Linked DNA regions of Homo sapiens: all the other regions are linked to region 1. Evidence: fine-mapped expression QTL. A gene starts in region 1. Each other region holds a variant in brackets. All regions are shown on one strand. Distances are from middle to middle. Region 1 holds the start of ATP11A (ATPase phospholipid transporting 11A). Region 2 overlaps ATP11A (ATPase phospholipid transporting 11A). Region 3 holds the start of LOC124903252 (a long non-coding RNA gene). Region 4 overlaps ATP11A (ATPase phospholipid transporting 11A).

Region 1 (5,143 bases):
CTAGACCACTGAATGATGAGAAGCCAGAGAGAGACAGCAAGGCCGGCCTGCCCCCAGTGTTCTATCACCCTAGCTGAGACCCCAGCTGTGTGACTAGACCACAGGAAGCTTCCAGCCCCAGCTGACCCCCAGAAGAATGCAGCTGCAGGACAATCCCAGCCAACAACAGGTGGAGCAGAAGCACCATCGCACCAATTCCGCAGGGTCCTGAGAAATGGTAACCCACTCACTGCCGTTTCAGCTCCTGCACTCGCGGTCACTCGTGACACAGCCAAAAATAACTGACTCACAGGGTGTCTTAGTCTGCTCAGGCTGCTGTAACAAAATCCTTTAGATGGCTATTCATACACACAGAAGTTTGCTTCCCACAGTTCTGAAGGCTGAGAAATCCAAGATCAAGGTCCCAGCAGATCTGGCATCTGAGAAAAGTTCTCTGCTTCATAGAAGGCCTCTTCTAAGCATCTTCATATGGCAGAAAGGGCAAGCAGGCTCCCAAAAACCTCAGTTTTAAAGGGCACTAATCCCATTCCTAACCACCTCCCAAGGCCCCCACCTCTTAATATTTGGGATTAGGTATCAGGTATTTGGGATTAGGTTTCCACGTGTGAATTTGGGAGGACACCTTCAGACCATAGCACAGGGTGAGTTGGACTTTGTTTTTTAATAGCCCTGATTTTTTTTTCTTAGATTTACCGTGAAGATGCTGACATGTGTTAGAAACAGAAAATCCAGCTCATGTGGTTTAAACGGAGACGTCTCTCATAGCAGGAAATTCCAGGTGAGGGCAGCAGGATTTTGGTGAATTGCCTGGTTGTGCCACCAAGGACTCCTGCTCTTCTCATCTTCCCAGGCGGCCACCCCAGGGTGAAGATGCTCTTCCGGCCACCTTCTCTTATAAGTGCAAAGGGCTGCGGAGCACCAGGCATTGCATCCAGACAGGGAATGCAACATTCACCAGGGAAAAAGGAGCATTTCCTCTTTATGTTCCTGTAGGAGTGAGAAAACCTTTGCCAGACAACCCCCAGCAGGCTTCCTGTTGGGACTCATTGACTTGAGCTTGTTTGAAGCCAATTGTTGGAAAGAGAAATGGAGTTACCAAGATTTTCTCAAGAGACAGAGTTTACCCTTAGCCACACAGAGTGGATACCTGAACCAGCAAGGATAGAGAGGGCATGGCTGCTGCATTGTCAACCAACAGTATTCACAACAGAATGAAAAACAATTCACATTTACTACTGAATAAAGCAGACACTCCTGACAGACAGGCAGCCTTGATCTAGTGCCTTATACAACCTCTGATTGCGCCTCGACCCCAATCCCACAGTCACGGTTTACAAGGTAGAAGCTTAGTCAAAATCCGGCTTCAGCAGTCAGGGTTCTTGCAGGAAACTGAAGGTGTTCTTGGGAGGGGATTTGGAAGCGAGTTTGATGAAGGACTCTTTGTTGCGGTGTGGTCATGGTTCAAGGATCCTTCAAAGGGTGCTGCTATTTAGGGACCAGCAACAATGGCAGACCGACAACATGTCTCACCCTAAGAGGCTTGGGGGCGGGGAGAAGTTCTGTTCGTAGAGCCTAGAGGAGTTGTGCAATGGAAAGGGCACCCAGGAAGAATCGTAGCCACAGAGTGAAACCAACACTGGTGGGTGTGGGGCCAGGCCAGGAAGGAGAGGGGAAGAGGCCCCTGCCTCCCTCCTACCCGGTCTGCAGCAGGTTGTCCCTGTGGGTGAAGATCCACTGAGGGGGACCGCCAGCTTCCTGAGCACAGGGCAGGCCAGAGCAGGACAGGCTGGGATGGAAAATGAAGAATCAGTGCTTTAGCCGACAACAAATGGGAGCCGTTTACTGTTTAGTCACTATGATTAGTGTTCACTAGTACTCATTTCTCTTCGTCTAAAAAGTGGCCAACACCATCTCTTTTCCACAAGCACTCGGGAGAACATTCATATTCAATTGCCTTCCTAAGACCCAGACGGGGCAGCGCTCTCCACAGGCCACCAAAAGGTGTTGCCTGTTTGGTTTCATCAGTGATTATCTGTGGCAGCAAGACAGGAAGTTGGAAATCAAGTACCTCAATTAAGTCAAGGCTGACCGTGGAATTAGAGAACAAGTGTTTGTTACCCCGGCCAGGTCACCCTAGGGAAAACAGGCATTCTCCGGGATTGAAATGGTGGTGTTTGTGTGGTAAATAGTTCTCAGTCCAGTTCAAAGCCAGCAGCATTAAGGACACGCCACCGCCACCGGGAGCTGGAGACCAGGCGAAGCTGAGCTCCTCTGTGGTTCACCAACCCCTCAGGCCGCCTAAGTGTCTTCTGCTGTCGCAGCTTTGGGGACAGAGGGGTTTCGGAAACAGGGGCCTCTTGTCTGCACCCTCCCCTCCCACTGACAGGCTGGCAGCCCAGGGCAGCCACCTGAGGAGCGTCCCTGTGTCTCTCCATCTGCAGAGCAGGAAAAGCCTGCGGGTCGGTGGCGCCACGCTGGGGCGAGACCCAGCTTCGGCTCAGGAGATCTCCCACCCAGCCGGACTCCCGCTCTCTGCCCGCGGCCCCCTCCCACACTCCCACCTCGCCCCGCGATCTCACTGCCCCATCGAGGCTTCCGGGCGGAGGAGAAAAGTTTTCCGGCAGGAACCCGGGAAGGAAGCCCTGGGACCCTGGCTGAAACTCCGGGTTTCCCCAGTGCCGAGTCCCTTCCCCGCCGCGCCCAGCGCCTGCGCCCCGGGAGGCGGAAGCAACAGGGGGGTTCCTCCCCGCGGCCTCTGACCTCTGCCCTCTGCCCTCTGCCCCCAGGGTCTGGGGCCCGGGCGGAGGCGCGAGGGGGCAGGGCCGGCGCGCGGGTGCGAGCGCGGGTGTGGGCGCGGGGCCGGCGGGGGCTGCGGCCGCGGGGCGCATGCTCACTTGCGCCGGTGACGTGCGCGCCCGGAGCAGGGGCAGGAGCCAGCGGGGCCCGGAGGCTCCAGAGGGCGGCGGGCAGGGGAGGAGGAGACTCGGGAGGAGCAGAGCGCAGGCTCCGCCGCGGCCGGGGTGCTCCAGCCGAGCCCAACCGAGCGGGCGGACCGACGGGGAGAGAGAAGGCGCCAGAGCGCGCGCGCGCGGCCCCGAGCAGCAGCCTTGCCGCCAGTGGAGCAGCTGCCGACGCGCGGGGCCGCGGACCCAGCATTCGCCGGCCGGGCCGGGCATGAGCGCGGAGGGGCCGCGGCCGCCCCCTGCACCGCCCGGCGCGCCGAGGCCGTGACCGGAGCGGGGGGCGCGGCCGCACTAGTACCCCGGAGCCCATGGGCGCGCCGAGCCGGGCGCGGGGGCGCTGAACGGCGGAGCGGGAGCGGCCGGAGGAGCCATGGACTGCAGCCTCGTGCGGACGCTCGTGCACAGATACGTGAGTGCTCCCGGCGCGGGCTGGGGGACCCGGGGACCAGACAGACGCGGGCCGGCCCCGCAGCCCGGACCCTGTGGCCGGTCCAGCCCCGGGGTCCCGGGAGGTCTCCGATGTCTGGGACTCGGACCGCCCCCGGGGACGAGCGGGATGCTGGGGAGGGGCCTCGGAGTTGACACCCTGGGGCTTCCGACGGGGTCTAGGTGGGCACAGCGCGGGGCCCCAGCCCCGGGCGGCCACCTGCTCCCTGGCCGCGGCCGCCTGGCGCCCCCTTCCCGCCCGCAGCGCCCTGGGGGTCCCTCGGAGAGGCTGGCTGGGGTTCGAGCTGTCCCGGCGGACCGGGCGCCCGGAGGGAGCCAACTTCGACCCCGCCGGGGCCCGGGTCTGGGGAGGAACCTTCAGATGCGGCTTCCGCGCAGCCGTGTCTGTAAGATTAAGGGATTGGGAGGAAGCGTTACACTTCTGCAGAAAAAGGTAGCAATTGTGTTTGTTCTTTAACACCCCTGGGGGATTCAGAAGCGGAGTTTGGAATCTTTTTATTTTTTACCTTAAAGTAACCAATTAGATCAGAAGTCCGGGGTCTTCTTGGGTTCCTCTGGAATTTGCCCCTTCAGTGATAAGCAAGTGAAGAGCTCAGGAGGGAAGACTCGGAAGGGGAAAAGTTGATTTTGTTTTACACCAGAGGAGGGGAAACCGGAATCCCTGGCGTTAGGTGTAAAAAGGGGTGTGTGGCCGGGCGCGGTGGCTCACGCCTGTAATCCCAGCACTTTTGGAGGCCGAGGCGGGCGGATCACGAGGTCAGGAGTTTGAGACCAGCCGGACCGACATGGTGAAACCCCGTCTCTGCTAAAAAATACGAAAATTAGCCGGGCGTGGTGGTAGGCGCCTGGGATCCCAGCTACTCAGGAGGCTGAGGCAGGAGAATCGCTTGAACCCGGGAGGCGGTGGTTGCAATGAGCCGAGATCGAGCCACTGCACTCCAACCTGGGTGACAGAGCGAGACTCTGTATCAAAAAAAAAAAAAAAAAAGGGTGTGTGTGTGTGTGTGTGTGTGTAGGAGAGGAAGAAAACTGTCCCAAGCACAGCGTTTCCTGCCACTGTCTTGCACAAGAGGCTTCATTGTTCCATAGAGGCTGGCGGTCACTGGTCAATCACAGGTTCGAGAAGTCGCATGCACCGGGTTTGATACTAGAGAGGGCAGTATTATGGGAACTTTGTTCTTTCCCGGCATAGGAATTACCTCAGGCAGCCTTTCATATTTATGAGCCTTCTTTAAATAGGAGACCTTGGCCAAAGATAGATAGGTTTCTTTTCAGTGGGGGATGCCAGATCAATGCTTTCCCCCGGATTTATTTATTAACCAAAAACCTCGGAGAGTCAAGGAGACTTGAGTGCACCTTACATCGTTTCCTGATCTCGGGGAAGCCTTAGGAAGGTCAGCCTGACTTACTTAAGTGGAGAGAACTCACCCCTGGTGATTCTGATGATTCCGATGCTAGATCTTGAAAGGCTTGGCTCCAGGAGCCTTGTGTTACTCCCTCACTGGTGCTCGAGCCCCCAGTTCAAATCCTAATGTGAGTGGTAAACCTGTGTTTCACTGTGGTAACGTTATAGAAGACCCAATCACAGTGACTATAGGTAACCTGCAGTGTAAGAGAAATGCTTTATTGGGCGGAAGCTTCTGTTCTCAGTTGTGTCGCTCAGAAGTGTGGGTCCCTAGACACCTTATTTTCCTGCTTTGTTTCCTTCGAGCGAAATGGAAGAGGGAAGGGAC
Region 2 (5,143 bases), 28 kb after region 1:
GGCTGAGGCCCCCCCCCACCTGCCTGATCCTCCCCACCTGGCTGATCCTCCCTACCTGGCTGATCCCCCCACCTGGTCACACTGCCCCTCCTCCCCAGAGGGTTGCCCCTCTGTATTTACAGTTGATTAAAATCTTACTTTCTCTGGGAATTCTTTACAGATTAATCTTCTTCCAAAGACAACCCTAACCTGTGCCTTTTCAGCAGTTGTGCTATTTTGCAGGACGAATTCGCACCTGTTTCTGTGTTGCTCTGTGATCATTCCCAAGTGGCTTGGGCTTGGAGCCCTGTTGCTCACACCTCTGGGGGCCGGGGAAGGTGTTTGCCAGAGAGACAGAGTGTATGGCCTTGAGGGCACCTTCTCCTTAGAAATCCGATCCCATTCCTTTCCCCTTCTCCCACTAAGGGCTCTCTGAGGGATGGTAGTGGCTGGGTGTGGAATTGGGTTTTGCTTTGCTTTCTCTCCCCAGCAGCTCTGGGCAGGCTGGCTCTGTGGGGGCCTGGGGGTGGCTCCTGCCTGGACTTTGAGAATTGGAGAGGCTTGGAGCTCATTCTCAGTGGAGTTCCCGGTGGCTGCTCCGTCTTCTGAGCCTGGTCCTCTGGCCTTCTGCAGATGCTGGGAGCCACAGCACCCTGTGATAGACCTTTTGCCAGAGCTCCCATGAGAAGCATCCACCGTGGTGGGGCCAAGTCCCTAGGCCCCAGGCATTCCCCATCTGGTGGGAAGTGGGGGCTTTAGCAAGTCGCATCTCTCTCTGCCCCTCCTGGTGAGCTCTGCTCCGACAGCTGTGGGAACCCGTGGGAATGCCCACCTAGGTGCGTGTGGCCTGGCGTCTCCCCAGATTCACTTCCTAGTTTTTCACTTCACGTGGCCCAGACACTCAGAAGGAACCACCAACCCAGTGGTCTGTGGTGGCTCTGGGGGCCTGTGGGGGCCACCACCTCTAGTCTCCTGGTAGGCATCCCCTCCGCCTCTGGGAGGACGGGAGCCGGGACAGAGGGGGCAAGGAGGCCTCCTGGGACTGGGGCGTTCCCCACCTTCCACTGTGCCGGTCTTCATGCAGGGCCAGAGCCTGGCTCGGGGCTGGGTTTGCACTGAGCCAGGTCCTGACTCTCACCCATGTCTTGGGCACGTCGATGGGGCCGGGCCGCTGGAGAGGGTGTGAGAGCAGGTTCCTCCCCAGGTCTCAGCCAGTGACGGGGCCCATCCTGGACTTGGGGGCTCTGCGTGAGTGGGGCAGTGGCAGCTCCTGCAGGGCCCAGGTGGGGTGTGGGTAGGTCGGGGAGGCTGCTGGCCTCCCAGCCTCCCTCAATTTCTGCGTTCTAAAGATGGCTATGTGCAAAATAAAGGTGAAATGATGGGGCAGTACTGGATCAGGTGGACATCCGGGAGCTGGAGGCCCGTGCACTTTCCCTGGGACGGGCAGAGGCTTGTGGTGTCCACCCACAGACGCAGACCCACTGGCCTGCAGGGCCCATAGAGGCTGTTGTTGGCCCTGGTGATGAGTGGGGGACACGAGTATGTTCTGAAATGAGGGGGAGGCTTCTGTTGTGACCTTGACCAGGAAGAGAAAGAGAAGCCAGGAGGAGAGCAGACACGCTTCCGCCTTGAGGACGGCACTTGTTCAAGTGTAAAGAACGGAACAATCGGGACAAAATTTAAAATGCAAATATGGTCTCATTTATTTGTAATAAAAGGCTGCTGGAAAGTAGGTGCAGGAGTGGCCCAGGTTAGCATAATACTTTTTCTCCTAATCACATCCAACTTGTTTTTCTACTCTTATTTCAGAACATGCCCCCCCGCCATCCCAGGAGAAGCAGCAGCTCTCTGCCTCCTTGACTGAGCTCCATTACCTCCAAGCTGAGAGGGTTGTTCAAGAGGGCGTGTGGGATTCTTTTGAAAACACATTTTTAGAAAGCACCCTTTTAACAACTGAACATGATTTGGTTGAAAATAAACATCCCCGGGTACTCTTGTGGTACATGTTTATGATTTTGATGCTTCTGGTCTGAATGTACAACCTTCACATTGTACATTACAAACACTACTGTCAAGTTTATAGATTTTCATTTTATTTGCTAATTCATTTTTCAGTTCTCTGCACTGCTTGTAAATCAGGCAAACCTGATAAACTGTCTAAACATATGATGATACTGAATTGATTAAGTTATGGTCGTAGGTGAGAAAACAGTACATGTTGTGTGATGCCATTCCGAAAAAGTTTCAAACACACATCTGTGCATTAGAAATGATTGCCACGTGGCCAGGCACGGCGGCTCACGCCTGTAACCCCAGCACTTTGGGAGACCGAGGTGGGTGGATCACCTGAGGTCAGGAGTTTGAGACCAGCCTGACCAACATGGTGAAACCCCATCTCTACTAAAAATACAAAAATTAGCTGAGCGTGGTGGTGCATGCCTGTAATCCCAGCTACTCGGGAGCCGAGTCAGGAGAATCACTTGAACCCAGGAGGCAGAGGTTGCAGTGAGCCAAGATTGCACCACTGCACTGCAGCCTGAGTGACAAGAGGGAAACTCCATCTCAAAAAATTAATAAATAAATAAATGATTGCCACCGCCCCCTGCCCCCCACCCCGCCAAGGCGTGAACAGGAGTTGTCTCTCCCCCTTTGCTGTGTGATAGTCTTTTTGCTTGAATTTATTTTGCTTTTCCGTAAAGAACACTCATTGCTTTTACCATTGGATAAAAAGCATAAAAACAATATAGATATTAAAAGCACCTGGATTTTTTTGACGCTTTAACAATTTTAAATTTCTTTTCAGGTGACAATGTTCAACTCTGCTTTTTGTTTGTGCTCATGAAATTTTATTTGTTAGCCAGCCAAAGCCAAGTGTTTCCAGTTAAATTTACAACTCTTCTGTCTGTTCCAAACACAGCCTAAGCAAGAAGACAACTGTGCCGCCTGCCGCAAGTTTCATGTGAAATACCCCCAGAGGGCAGCCGCCTCCGCTGGGGGTCCTCCCTCCGAGGTGTGTGCGGTGGGGATGGGAACCCGCAGAGGCAGCACCCAGCTACTTGCCACTTAGGTTCTTCTAACTGCCCTCGAGAGATTGTCACTGGGTCCTGGATCCCTGGGTTTGGATTAGCAGTCGGACCAGGGTGGGCTTGCAGGCTGCA[C/CTT]TTTTTTTTTTTTTTTTGAGACTGAGTTTCATTCTTGTCACCCAGGCTGGAGGGCAATAGCACGATCTTGGCTCACTGCAACCTCCGCCTCCCAGGTTCAAGGGATTCTCTTGCCTCAGCTTCCTGAGTAGCTGGGATTACAGTTGCACGCCAACACTCCCAGCTAATTTTTTTTTCTTTTGTATTTTTAGTAGAGATGGGGTTTTACCATGTTGGCCAGGCTGGTCTCGAACGTCTGACCTCCGGCTATCCACCCGCCTTGCCCTCCCAAAGTGCCGGGATTACAGGCGTGAGCCACTGCACCTGGCCTGCTTTTGAAATAGGACGTAGGGATTGAGGGAGGGTTAGGATTTCAACGATGGCTTTAACAGAAGAAGAGAAGATGCTGAAAGTCCGGCTTATTTGAACTGTGTGTGTGTGACTTTGAATTGCGTCAAATGCCATCTTGGTGAACAGTTGGAGGGGCCCTCAGGATGCCCTGTGACGCGCAGGTGTGACTTTGAATCGCGTCAAAGACCGTCTTGGTGAATAGTCAGGGGCCCTCAGGATGCCCTGTGACGCGCAGGCAGGAAATTATGATGGTGTGTTTCAGGTATGCAAACTGCACCAGAGGCAACACAAAAGCAAGTCAATATAAAAAGACTCAATGCCTTGCATGCCTTTGTTATATTCTCACGTAATCTTCAATCTTCTGTTCATGACTTTGTTTTGAAACACTTTTAAAATGTAAGATTAATTAACTTGTAGGCTGTGGGAATAATCCCATTTGCCGAATCAAAATAATGTATCCTTGATTCCAACTGTCAGAAGACAAAATTACAAAACATTTAGTTATAGATCTGATTGGATTTTAATTACAATTCCTTAACGGGGCAGCGTCCGTTCTACATAATGAGAGCTCCCACTGGGCAATGGCAGAACAGTCAGTTTTGTAAGGTGGAAGCAAGGAAACAGAATAAGAAGCTGATGGTGAACTTCAGGTTACTTCAGGTTACTTCAGGTTACTTCTTTGTAGAGGGTAAAGCAGAGGGGACTTTGTCACTTGCTGACTCAGGTCAACAGAATCTCCTATTTTTGAGAAAAACCGGTCTGTTTTGGGACCTGTCACTTCTTTAAAGTTCCATTTTGGTGACGTGGCATTGAGCAGGAGCAACTCCATTCCTGTTTGGTCTGGTCTGTTGGGGCCTAGTGCTGGAGCTCAGTCCAAAACAACAGTCTCCCATAATTTAAAAAAAAGTATTTCCATTTCATTTCTGGAAATTCAGCCTAAGAAAGTCATATCCCAAGTGCCCACAATCATATCAGAATGTTCTTTGCAGCAGTATCTGTTGTAGCAATGAAAACATCTCAAGTCTGTGGATAAGGGATTGATCAAATACATTAATGACCATTCTGTTAATGGAAAGACCAAAGTCTGTAAACTATTTTAAAGAGGTTTATTCTGAGCCTGTCTAAGTGACTGTGGGCTGGGGAAACAGAGTCTGAGAAGGTGCACCTGAGGCAGTCAGATCACAGTTTGGGTTTGTATATTTTAGGGAGACAGGACTCACAGGCAAAGCCACAAATCGGTACATGGAAGGTATACATTGGTTTAGCCCAGAAAGGTGGGATTTCTTGAAACGGGTGTCACAGGCCATAGGTGGAGTCGGAGATTCTTCAGTGTGCGATTGGTTAAAGCAGTAAAGCTTTGTTGAAAGCCTGGAGCCAGTGGAAGGGAGTGTTTAGATGAGGAAACCCACGCCCGACGCGCAGGGTCAGGGTTACCTGTGGGGTGCGTTCACCTTCGTCTGCTGTGGCCGCGGGTCCCGTGAGCCTGGGTTGAGGCAAAGAGGTTGTGGAGACCGGGGCTTTATCACGCAGATGAAGCCTCTGGGTAGAGTCTGTTTGTTTTTTTTTTAATTTTTTTGAGACGGAGTCTCGCTCTGTCGCCAGGCTGGAGTACAGTGGCATGATCTCAGCTCACTGCAACCTCTGCCTCCTAGGTTCAAGCGATTCTCCTGCCTCAG
Region 3 (5,143 bases), 95 kb after region 1:
CGCGCACTTGCCAGGCAAGGCCCACTGCATGTTGGCAGGCAGCCTGTTTTCTGAAGCCATGGCACAGACAAGAATACTCATTCCTACTTGTGTCGGGTTAAACGCCGCTACACTGTTGGGCTGTATCTGAGTTGTTTTTGATGTAATTATTTAATGATAAACGTCTGCTCGCCGGTGTTGAGACTTTGGAGTGGGCTTCATCCATTCATCCTGATCGTTCCTCCATGAGACAGGGTCCCTTTGTTGCTGGCTGGAAGCGGCCGGGAAGCGTGGGCTCGCTGTGGCATGGGCAATGCCACACGGCTCCAGGGAAGCGTTCAGCTTTCCAAACCAGTGTCTGGGCTCGTGGCCACTCCTGAAATTCAGTTGCCGTCTTTGAAGCTTCGAAGAAAGTTTCTAGGATTTTCACTTTTGTATTAAAAGATATCTGTATGCTTTTCTCTCTTTTTCTGGTTCACTTATATTCTTATTCAGTGCAATTTCCTGATTTCACGAGAATGAGAAGCATCTATTTGGCTATGTTCTGTGAAAACAAAGGAGCCAGGGACTTTGCTTAGCCTTTATAGGCAGCAGTTTATTTATGAAGCTCTTAGGATGCTTTTAAAGTCCACATCCCTGTGGTTTGTTGGCTTCACCACAAAATAGAGACAGCAGGGAAGGCCCCCGTCAGGCAGGGAGACCCAGTCCCGGAGGAGGAGGGCCCGTCCTCGTGGGGAGGGGCAGCCAGGCTGTGGCATGGTCAGGGCAGTGGGGCTGTGCTGCCCACCTGGCTTTGAGTCCAGGATGACGGTTACTGCATGGCCAGCAGGCTCGCGGGGAGGCCACGACCCAAGGTCGCGCTGAGGAAAACTGCGTCTGGCTCATTTGAGGGTGGAGTGTTCCTCCCTGGCCTGGTGGCTGCCTTGTACGTCTGTCCCCAGGAGCATGGAAGCCTCGGCTCCCCGTGGAAACACTGGTTGATAGTCTCAGCCAAACATCTCTGAAAACACAGTTGGGGCACATGGAGACTGCTGTGGTCTCTTTCCGTTATTTTACTTAGACTTTTCTGCAAAGCTGAGTCCTAATAAAAGAAATTGCAGGTGAATTACCGATGGAATTTATTAAAGCAAATGTGCAGACATTCACACAGCTCCTGTCCGGGACGTTCTGGGTGGGACAGTGTGGAAAGACTTCCTCTGAGAGGTTGGTAGGGGAGCAGAGGAGCTGATGACATCAAGTCCAAAAACAGCCCCATGAGGTTTATAAACAAGAGCACCACGCAGACAGGGACTCCAGACTGTTCAGACCCTGCCTGCCTTTTTTGGCTTTAAAAAACGAGAGTTCCCTGAAGCACCGAGGGGCAGCCCACACAGAGAGGACTTGGCCCTGAGCATTTACAAGTGTCTGTGCTGGGCCGGGCCCCTGGCCTTGTTCTGTTCCCGTTGCCTCATTTCATGCTCCAGGACCCTGAGAAAGTGCTGGTGTCCCCCTCATGGGTGAGAAGCTCAGCGGGAAACTGTCCCCGTGCCTGCGGCGAGGAGTGGCCCAGCAGCCAAGGGTCAGCCCTTCGACGGCAGTGCCCGCTCGTCCTTCCCGTCCCACTGCACCAGCATTCCCCTCATGGAGGAGGCTTCCGTCTCCTCTTCAGCTGTGTTTCTCATGCCCCAGAAAGGCTGATGTCTTGCAGTTCCTACAGAGAACTGGGGCGTGGGACGAGAGCCACACGCTAAGGCCCCGTATTCCGAGGTGGGCTCAGGGCCATGGCCAGGGCTGCGTATTCAGATGTGGCGTTTGGATTTCCCGTTACGAGCTAAAGTATTTTTGTGGTTTTAGTGCTGACATCAAATGGCCCGCCTGAGTGTTGTTGAAATATTTCTTGTCAGAGCTGTTTCCTTAACTCCTCCAAATACAGTGTTCCGAGTAATACAGAGATGGTCAGGCCCAAGTCAGCTTTGCAGGAGAGCCTTCCTGTTCCTGAGCAGACACCTAGCAGGGTTGAGCGACTCTTACCCATCTGCAGATGCAGGGCCGGTGACCCCACAGTGGGGCAAGAGCCTGGAGAGCTCTTGGCTTTGCCCAGGAAGGAATTCAAGGGCAAGCAGGAGGCGGAAGAAACAGCTTCATTGAAGAGGCTACAGCTCCCTGACTGCCCCTGCAGAGCGGGGCTGCCCTGTTAGGCGGAGAGGAGTAGCTCAGGGCAGATTTAATTGCATGCAGATTAAGGGGTGGTTTATGCAGAAATTTCTAGGAGAAGGATGTAACTTGTAGGCGATCGGGTCATTGCCATGGAAAGGGGCCGCAGCTCCTGGCTGTTGCCATGGCAATGGTAAACTGATATTCACACCGCGGGCATGTCTTATGGAAAGCTGCCTCTGCCCCAGCCCTGTTTTCACCAGTCCTCAATCTGGTCCGGTGTCCAAGCCCC[A/G]CCTCTGGAGTCAAGTCCCGCCTTCTACCCCAGTATCATAGTTTTTCTTTCCTCTTCCATTAAAGACCTTTCCCAACATCACTGTCTCTTCTGTTTTGGAAGCCTTACGATTTGGCCACACGTTCTGTTCTTTTTTTTTTTTTTTGAGACAGAGTCTCGCTCTGTCCCCCAGGCTGGAGTGCAGTGGTGCTATCTCGGTCACTGCAAGCTCCACCTCCCGGGTTCACGCCATTCTCCTGCCTCAGCCTCCTGAGTAGCTGGGACTACAGGCGCCCACCACCACACCCGGCTAATTTTTTGTATTTTTTAGTAGAGACGGGGTTTCACCGTGTTAGCCAGGATGGTCTCCATCTCCTGACCTCGTGATCCGCCCATCTCGGCCTCCCAAAGTGCTGGGATTACAGGCGTGAGCCGCCGCGCCCGGCCGCGTTCTGTTCTTATGTACACGCCCTGAGCTGTTTCCACTGGCAGTCAGCTTTGAAGTTCACTGTGTGGCTCTCACAGGAGCGCAGACCCTCCTGGTGCTCACCAGAAGACCTTGGCCCATGAGGGCTGCGTAAGACAGGGTGGCTCGGGCCTGGGGTGCTGGGCCCCAGGTCTCCCTGCAGCCCTGAACGATGCTCTCAGCAGCAGGTACAGGTCTCCGTTCCGACGAACGTGCCTCAAGGCAACACTCTGGGCAAGAGCTTTTGATGCAGGTTCTGAGGCAGCTGCCTAACACCGCTCTCCTTTCCGCAGTGTGCAGGAGAAGAGAATTGGGTGGACAGCAGGACCATCTACGTGGGACACAGGGAGCCACCTCCGGGCGCAGAGGCCTACATCCCACAGAGATACCCAGACAACAGGATCGTCTCGTCCAAGGTAACTTGGCTTGGGTCTGAGTGTCCATAATGTGTCTAAAAAGCAGCTGCCGGGGGGTGTTAGTGCTTCTCGGTTTCAAAGAGCGGCTCTGCTCCTGGCCCTGCTGTCACAGCCACCAGCCACCCCCAGCAAGGGCTTCGGATCAGGACCTCACCGAGGGCGCTACTCTCTCCCTCTCGGTGACTGCCCACAGGAGGCTTTCCACCTGCCCAGGGCTCACAGCGCAGTGTCTCCATTCTCGGGTGACCGTGCCACAGAGGCAGTGCAGGTCTGAAGTCCAGGATCCAAACCCTACCCAGGTCCCACTTCTGAGGCGCCTGGCCACGTGCTTGTCGTGGGCCACCCTGGCCAGAGTCTCAGTGCCAGTAAGGTAGAAACGATACCAGCCACCCCGGAGAAAGAGCCAACAAACGCAGGCTGGACAGCAAAACCTGGGGGGAAATCTTTGAGCTTGTTCACGAGGTGCAGCCCAGGTAAAGCGTAGGAAGCACAAGCAGAGTGCCGCGGTCTAAACGAAGCGTGTTTCTCTCCATGGACTAGAGCGTGGAAGTGCACACACATTTCCCACGTTCAGAGAGTGACCTGGAAACAGGTCTTAAGAACAAGGTGGAAATTTAGCTGCTGCCATTAAACATGGGGTAAACTGTGCTTTCCAGGTAATGCGGAACGCACGTGCCTGCGTTCAGACTCCATTTATCTTCACCGTCCTTCAAAATGGATGAGCTAAACCCACGCACACGCGTGGACGGGCTGCACATGGGGTAAACTGTGCTTTCCAGGTAATGCGGAACGCACGTGCCTGCGTTCAGACTCCATTTATCCTCACCGTCCTTCAAAATGGATGAGCTAAACCCACGCACACGCGTGGACGGGCTGCACATGGGGTAAACTGTGCTTTCCAGGTAATGCGGAACACACGTGCCTGCATTCATACTCCATTTATCTTCACCGTCCTTCAAAATGGATGAGCTAAACCCACGCACACGCGTGGACGGGCTGCACATGGGGTAAACTGTGCTTTCCAGGTAATGCGGAACGCACGTGCCTGCGTTCAGACTCCGTTTATCTTCACCGTCCTTCAAAATGGATGAGCTAAACCCACGCACACGCGTGGACGGGCTGCACATGGGGTAAACTGTGCTTTCCAGGTAATGCGGAACGCACGTGCCTGCGTTCAGACTCCGTTTATCTTCACCGTCCTTCAAAATGGATGAGCTAAACCCAGGCACACGCGTGGACGGGCTGCACATGGGGTAAACTGTGCTTTCCAGGTAATGCGGAACGCACGTGCCTGCATTCAGACTCCGTTTATCTTCACCGTCCTTCAAAATGGATGAGCTAAACCCAGGCACACGCGTGGACGGGCTGCACATGGGGTAAACTGTGCTTTCCAGGTAATGCGGAACGCACGTGCCTGCATTCAGACTCCATTTATCTTCACCGTCCTTCAAAATGGATGAGCTAAACCCACGCACACGCGTGGACGGGCTGCACATGGGGATGCCTGTGGCGGCCCACCATTCACACGTGTGCCCTCACCTGTAGACGCATTTAATTTACATTGGGTGTCCTGCCGTGTAAACTTCTGTGGAGACCTACTTAATTCACACCAAGTGTCCTGATGTGTAGACCCCTGCGATAGACCTACTTAATTCACACCGGTGTCCTGACGTGTAGACCCCTGTGGAGACCTACTTAATTCACACCGGGTGTCCTGATGCGTAGACCCCTGTGGAGACCTACTTAATCCACACCGGGTGTCCTGATGCGTAGACCCCTGTGGATACCTACTTAATTCACACCGGGTGTCCTGATGCGTAGACCCCTGTGGAGACCTACTTAATTCACACCGGTGTCCTGACGTGTAGACCCCTGTGG
Region 4 (5,143 bases), 180 kb after region 1:
GTGAGGCTTTCGCACTGGTCAGGTTCTTGGCTGAGATGTGCCTGTCACATGAGGACAGGGTTCCACAGAAATCAGAAACAGGAGCTTCACTGGGGATGGCGTTGATGTCACTTGGAAGAAAAGGGTCCCTGTGAAAAGCCCTTTGAAAAAGGAGATTGGTATCCCAGGGATGCCTGCCACCCCCAGAATCTGATGGAAATAACGACCAGCAATTGTAGTAATAAACTATCCGCACATGTTAGTCCATTTTCACATGGCTCTGAAGAGCTACCTGAGACAGGGTGATTTAGGAAGAAAAGAGGTTTAATCGAGCCACAGTTCTGCAGGCTGCATAGGAAGCATCGCTGGGGAGGCCTCAGGAAACTTACAATCATGGCGGAAGGCAAAGGGGAAGCAAGGCCCTTCTTTACAAGGCTGCAGGAGAGAGAGAGCAAAGGGGAAAATGCTACACACTTTGAAACAACCAGATCTCATGAGAACTCACTCGCCCACCGTCAACGAGATCTGCAAGGAGGACGTCCATGATTCAGTCACCTCCCACCAGGCTCTCCCTCCAACACACGGGGATTATAATTTGAGATGAGATTTGGGTGAGGACACAAAGCCAAACCACATCATGGCAGTTCACCTGGGGGCCCCACTTCAGGCCACCAAGGGAATAAGAGGGCTTTCCAGAGATGCGTTTCAGGATAGCTCCACAGTGGACTAGCTTCCAAAGGACGTGGACACAGGTTAGTAATGGGTCAGCGTTTCTCAGGGGCCCTGACCAAGGTGCCTGATTCTGGATTCACGATAGCTGTGCTTTGTTCCTCACCTATAAAGCTTACAGCTGTGGCCCATGTGCTCTGCAGGACCAGGCATCCTGAGGCCTAACTCCTTATCCCAGTTCTGCCATTACCCCCTAAACCCAGGGAGCCCCAGCTGGGAGCTTAGAAAGGCAGTTTCTCGGCTCACAGCAGGGAGAGGGGACAGTGAGGAGGCCGTGTGAGTTGACTGCAGTTATCACCTGTGGCGCTGTTGGTGACACACACTGCTTCACAGGGCACCCTTGAGTTCATGTCTTGCTGCCATCTAACTCTTTCAGAGTTCTGTGTTGGGATGGCCAAGGTGAGGCCTGGGGGAGGAAGAGGAGAGCTGGGCAGCGTCAGGGGCTTTTCCTCCAGGCCCAGCTGATGTGGTTGTCTGGGTGCAAAGCCGCCCTCAGCTGCTGTGGAGGCACCACTTGGCTGAAAGCATCAGCTTCCAGTTACAGCACAGCAGCCTCCCGCCCTCCAGCACCTTGCTGGCCACATGTGCTTGTAGGCTGCTGCCAAGCCACAGCTGTTCCTAGAGGCATGATATTTTCCTGCCCCAGAAGTTAAGCCACAAAGAGACGGCACTTTTTGGTGAGTGTGAAACAGGCTTCTCACCCGGGCTCTGCTGACATTGGGGCCAGATGTACATCCTCGTGGGCCACTGTCGTGTGCACTCAGCAGCCCCTCCACCCCCCCATCCAAAGCTAGCAGACCCCACGCCCCAGAAATGTCTCCACCACGGCCAGGTGTCCCTGGGGGCAAGGCTGCCCCAGCCGAGAACCACAAGCATGTGTAGATCTGAGTGACACTGTAGGCCAGGCATTTCCAAGCCAGAAGGAGGAGGCCCACTTCTGATCACAATGAGGAAGTGAGGGAAAAACTGAAGGATGTGTTGATGGGGGCCCCTAAGAAGCGGTGTTCACTACAAAAGGTCCTAACACTTTTTTCTATAATCTACAAATGAGATGTTATCCTGTTATCCCACTGACCATGTGGGAGGACTGTAGCCCACACCCTCCCTCAGCTAAATCAAGGGGTATGGTGATGGGTGTGTTGTTTTGGTTGAAACTGAATTCTGAAGAACAGCCATTTGTATTCCAGCTTTTTAAGAGACAGAGTCTGTGCTCTGTCGCCCACGTTGGAGTGTAGTGGCGTGATCTCTGCTCACTGCAACCTCCGCCTCCCGGGCTCAAGCAATTCTCCTGCCTCAGCCTCCCTAGTGGCTGAGATTACAGGCAGGCGCCGCTACGCCCGGCTAATGTTTGTATTCTTAGTAGAGACGGGGTTTCACCATGTTGGCCAGGCTGGTCTCAAACTCTTGACCTCATGATCCGCCCACCTCGGCCTCCCAAAGCGCTGGGATTACAGGCATGAGCCACCACACCCGGCCCGCTTTTTAATTCTTTATAAAATAAAATTCCCTGCGAGGTGCAGTTCATGGAATCCGATAAACTAGAAATCGTCTGGGCCACAGCGCAGGAGCGTCCCAAAGGAAAGCAGGTTCTCCCGAAACAAGTTTCCAGTCGGGGGTTTTCCCCAAGGCGGGGGGTGGTCTGGGCAGCAGCCCTTTCTGGCCTGTGCCTCGTGCGGTAGAGAGGCGTGCTGTCCTCACGGGTCGGGCACGCGGTCCTCACGGGTGTGTCTGTGTCTGTGCTGCGTTGCCAGCTGGCAGCTCGTGGGTCCCACTGACCTTCCCTCCTCCACGGCCACCTGGGCACCACTGCTGGCGGATCTGTGGTTCTGGCCGCACGCGGGGCAGCCTCTGTCCAGCCCTGTCCTGTCTGCCGGCTTGTCTTCTCTGTCCTGAGGGAGGTTCCCCGAGGGAAGCCCCCAGGCTTCCCCCTCTGCATGGGTGCCTGGGGTGTTTCCTCTGCATTTACTCGCAGAACGTTCCCGCCGCTGTTCTTCAACAGCAGGCAGGAGTCTGAGCTGAGTTCAGAAGGGAACAGACACAGTCTGTGAGTTTGTTCCTGAAACCCGTGGAATGTAGCTGGGTACTCAGGCAACTGTCTTTTCTACGTAAAACACAAAACAGAAAAAGGAGGTTTGCGTGTACCCGAGTTTGCATTATGGATATTTAAATGCCAGCTGTGAGGGAGTTTTTGTGCTCAGTTTGAGACCTTGGGACGTCTGTTGTGGCTGAGAGCATTGAGCAGGGCCAGCGTCAGGAGCGGGCAGCAAGTTGCAGATAGGCAGGCTCTGAGCCCATCACCAAGCCACAGAACTGGTGGTGGGAGATGCAGCCGGGAAATGGGGGCGTCCTGCCGTGCTCTGGGGAGTTGCTGCATCTTCTTTTACGGGATAATAAGAAAATATAGTGCTTATATCTTTGGGGTTTGAAGTGTTGGCAC[A/G]CAAGAAAAATGAGGTGTATTTTCTAAAACTCTTGATTGTGAAAGAGAAAAAAAAATACATAAAAACGAGATGACTTGGACTATTTTCCCCAAACAGATATTTGGAAACTGGACGTTTGGAACGCTGGTATTCACCGTGATGGTGTTCACAGTTACACTAAAGGTAAGTGGTCTCGCGCTCACGTTCCTCCCCCAGCCACAGTGAACCCCTGCAGTGTAGGCCTCACGCGCTCTGAGCTCTCTGAATTATAACTCTGTACTGAGGCTGGAAGCCACTCTCCACCCAGCCTTGGCTGGCTCCTGGGGCACCCCTGGGCATCCTTGTCCTGCTGTTTAGACAAGTAATGCACAGCCACTCAGCACACCCGGCCACCCCATGTGCAAACCCCAGAGCTACACCGGAGGTAACCTCGGGAGCAAGCTGCTTCTTTGTGAAAGAATTCAGGCTAGAATTGTTTTCAGTGGCAAGTAGCCCTCCCCCCAGCGCCATCAAAATACACTTTAATTGAAACAAATTAATGTATTTTGAAAAATTTCACTCTTTAAAGTTCAGTGAAATTATATACAGAATATATCATTATGAAATCTCAAAACCTATCAGACTGAGTCTTAAAAAGTGATACCAAAACATTCCTAAGGTGATTTTCTTAGATAGTGATGTAAACAACACCTGACTCTAAAGTAACTTTCTGGCCAGGCATAGTGGCTCACACCTGTAGTTCCAACACTTTGGGAGGCCAAGGTGGATGGATCACCTGAGGTCAGCAGTTCGAGACCAGCCTGGCCAACATGGCAAAACCCCATCTTTACTAAAAACACAAAAAGTAGCCGGGCATGGTGGCACGCGCCTGTAATCCCAGCTACTTGGGAGGCTGAGGCACGAGAATCGCTTGAACCCGGGAGGTGGAGGTTGCAGTGAGCCAAGATCGCACCACTGCACTCCAGCCTGGGCGACAGAGCGAGACTGTCTCAAAAAAATTTTAAGAAGTAACTTTCTTCAGTAGAGACATAAAGAACACCTTAATCTGAATGACTTTCTTCGGTGACGATATAAACAACACCTTGGTCTGTGGCCCGCATGCTGCCATCTGGGAAATACATCCATGGCTCCCTTACCTAGGACCCAGGGCTGTGGCGTCCCCACATTCTTCCTCTCCACTCACACTGTGAGGTGTGGCTTTGTCTTCCTGAGCAGTGTGAGGTGTGGCTTTGTCTTCCTGAGCAGTGTGAGCTGTGGCTTTGTCTCCCGAACGGTGTGAGGTGTGGCTTTGTCTTCCTGAGCGGTGTGAGGTGTGGCTTTGTCTTCCTGAGCGGTGTGAGGTGTGGCTTTGTCTTCCTGAGCGGTGTGAGGTGTGGCTTTGTCTTCCTGAGCGGTGTGAGGTGTGGCTTTGTCTTCTGGAGCGGTGTGAGGTGTGGCTTTGTCTTCCTGAGTGGTGTGAGGTGTGGCTTTGTCTCCTTAATGGTGTGAGGTGTGGCTTTGTCTTCCTGAACGGTGTGAGGTGTGGCTTTGTCTTCCTGAGTGGTGTGAGGTGTGGCTTTGTCTTCCTGAGCGGTGTGAGGTGTGGCTTTGTCTTCCTGAGTGGTGTGAGGTGTGGCTTTGTCTCCTTAATGGTGTGAGGTGTGGCTTTGTCTTCCTGAGCGGTGTGAGGTGTGGCTTTGTCTTCCTGAACAGTGTGAGGTGTGGCTTTGTCTTCCTGAGCGGTGTGAGGTGTGGCTTTGTCTTCCTGAGCGGTGTGAGGTGTGGCTTTGTCTTCCTGAGCGGTGTGAGGTGTGGCTTTGTCTTCCTGAGCCGTGTTTTGCAGGCATTGAGTCGTCATTGCTGGGTCTTGCGTTTGGTTTAGTTTCTCGTCACCCCCCGGCTCTCTGTCCTGCCCATCACGATCATTCTCACTGCTCAGATGACACCGTTAACTGCCCTTTTTTTTTTCCTTTTAGCTTGCATTGGACACACACTACTGGACTTGGATCAACCATTTTGTCATCTGGGGGTCGCTGCTG

The links.
Region 2: its variant is fine-mapped to the expression of ATP11A in whole blood (INTERVAL, PIP above 0.99).
Region 3: its variant is fine-mapped to the expression of ATP11A in whole blood (TOPMed, PIP above 0.99).
Region 4: its variant is fine-mapped to the expression of ATP11A in whole blood (TOPMed, PIP above 0.99). The same link has a PIP of 0.9 or more in blood mononuclear cells.

Annotation. Positions count from the first base shown.
Region 1 is chr13:112,687,084-112,692,226 of GRCh38, forward strand. It overlaps ATP11A (ATPase phospholipid transporting 11A), which reads left to right and starts at 2,955. Exons shown (of 30, transcript NM_015205.3): 1 at 2,955-3,372. The coding sequence starts at 3,334. It overlaps LOC102725228 (a long non-coding RNA gene), which reads right to left and starts at 2,732. Exons shown (of 2, transcript NR_187633.1): 1 at 2,580-2,732; 2 at 1-1,786. RefSeq lists enhancers at 1,792-2,309, 4,608-5,109 and silencers at 2,558-3,487, 3,508-3,747.
Region 2 is chr13:112,715,534-112,720,676 of GRCh38, forward strand. All of the region lies in intron 1 of ATP11A (ATPase phospholipid transporting 11A), which reads left to right. Among named protein-coding and RNA genes, the nearest start is that of ATP11A, 28 kb to the left of the region's middle. RefSeq lists an enhancer at 3,916-5,115. The variant C/CTT (reference allele first, on the strand shown) is at 3,138.
Region 3 is chr13:112,781,993-112,787,135 of GRCh38, forward strand. ATP11A (ATPase phospholipid transporting 11A) reads left to right here. Exons shown (of 30, transcript NM_015205.3): 2 at 3,143-3,265. LOC124903252 (a long non-coding RNA gene) reads left to right here and starts at 3,272. Exons shown (of 2, transcript XR_007063947.1): 1 at 3,272-3,921; 2 at 4,291-5,143. The variant A/G (reference allele first, on the strand shown) is at 2,405.
Region 4 is chr13:112,868,493-112,873,635 of GRCh38, forward strand. It overlaps ATP11A (ATPase phospholipid transporting 11A), which reads left to right. Exons shown (of 30, transcript NM_015205.3): 26 at 3,243-3,308; 27 at 5,081-5,143. Among named protein-coding and RNA genes, the nearest start is that of MCF2L-AS1, 98 kb to the right of the region's middle. RefSeq lists enhancers at 3,838-5,037, 4,177-4,678, 4,679-5,143, 4,800-4,849. The variant A/G (reference allele first, on the strand shown) is at 3,146.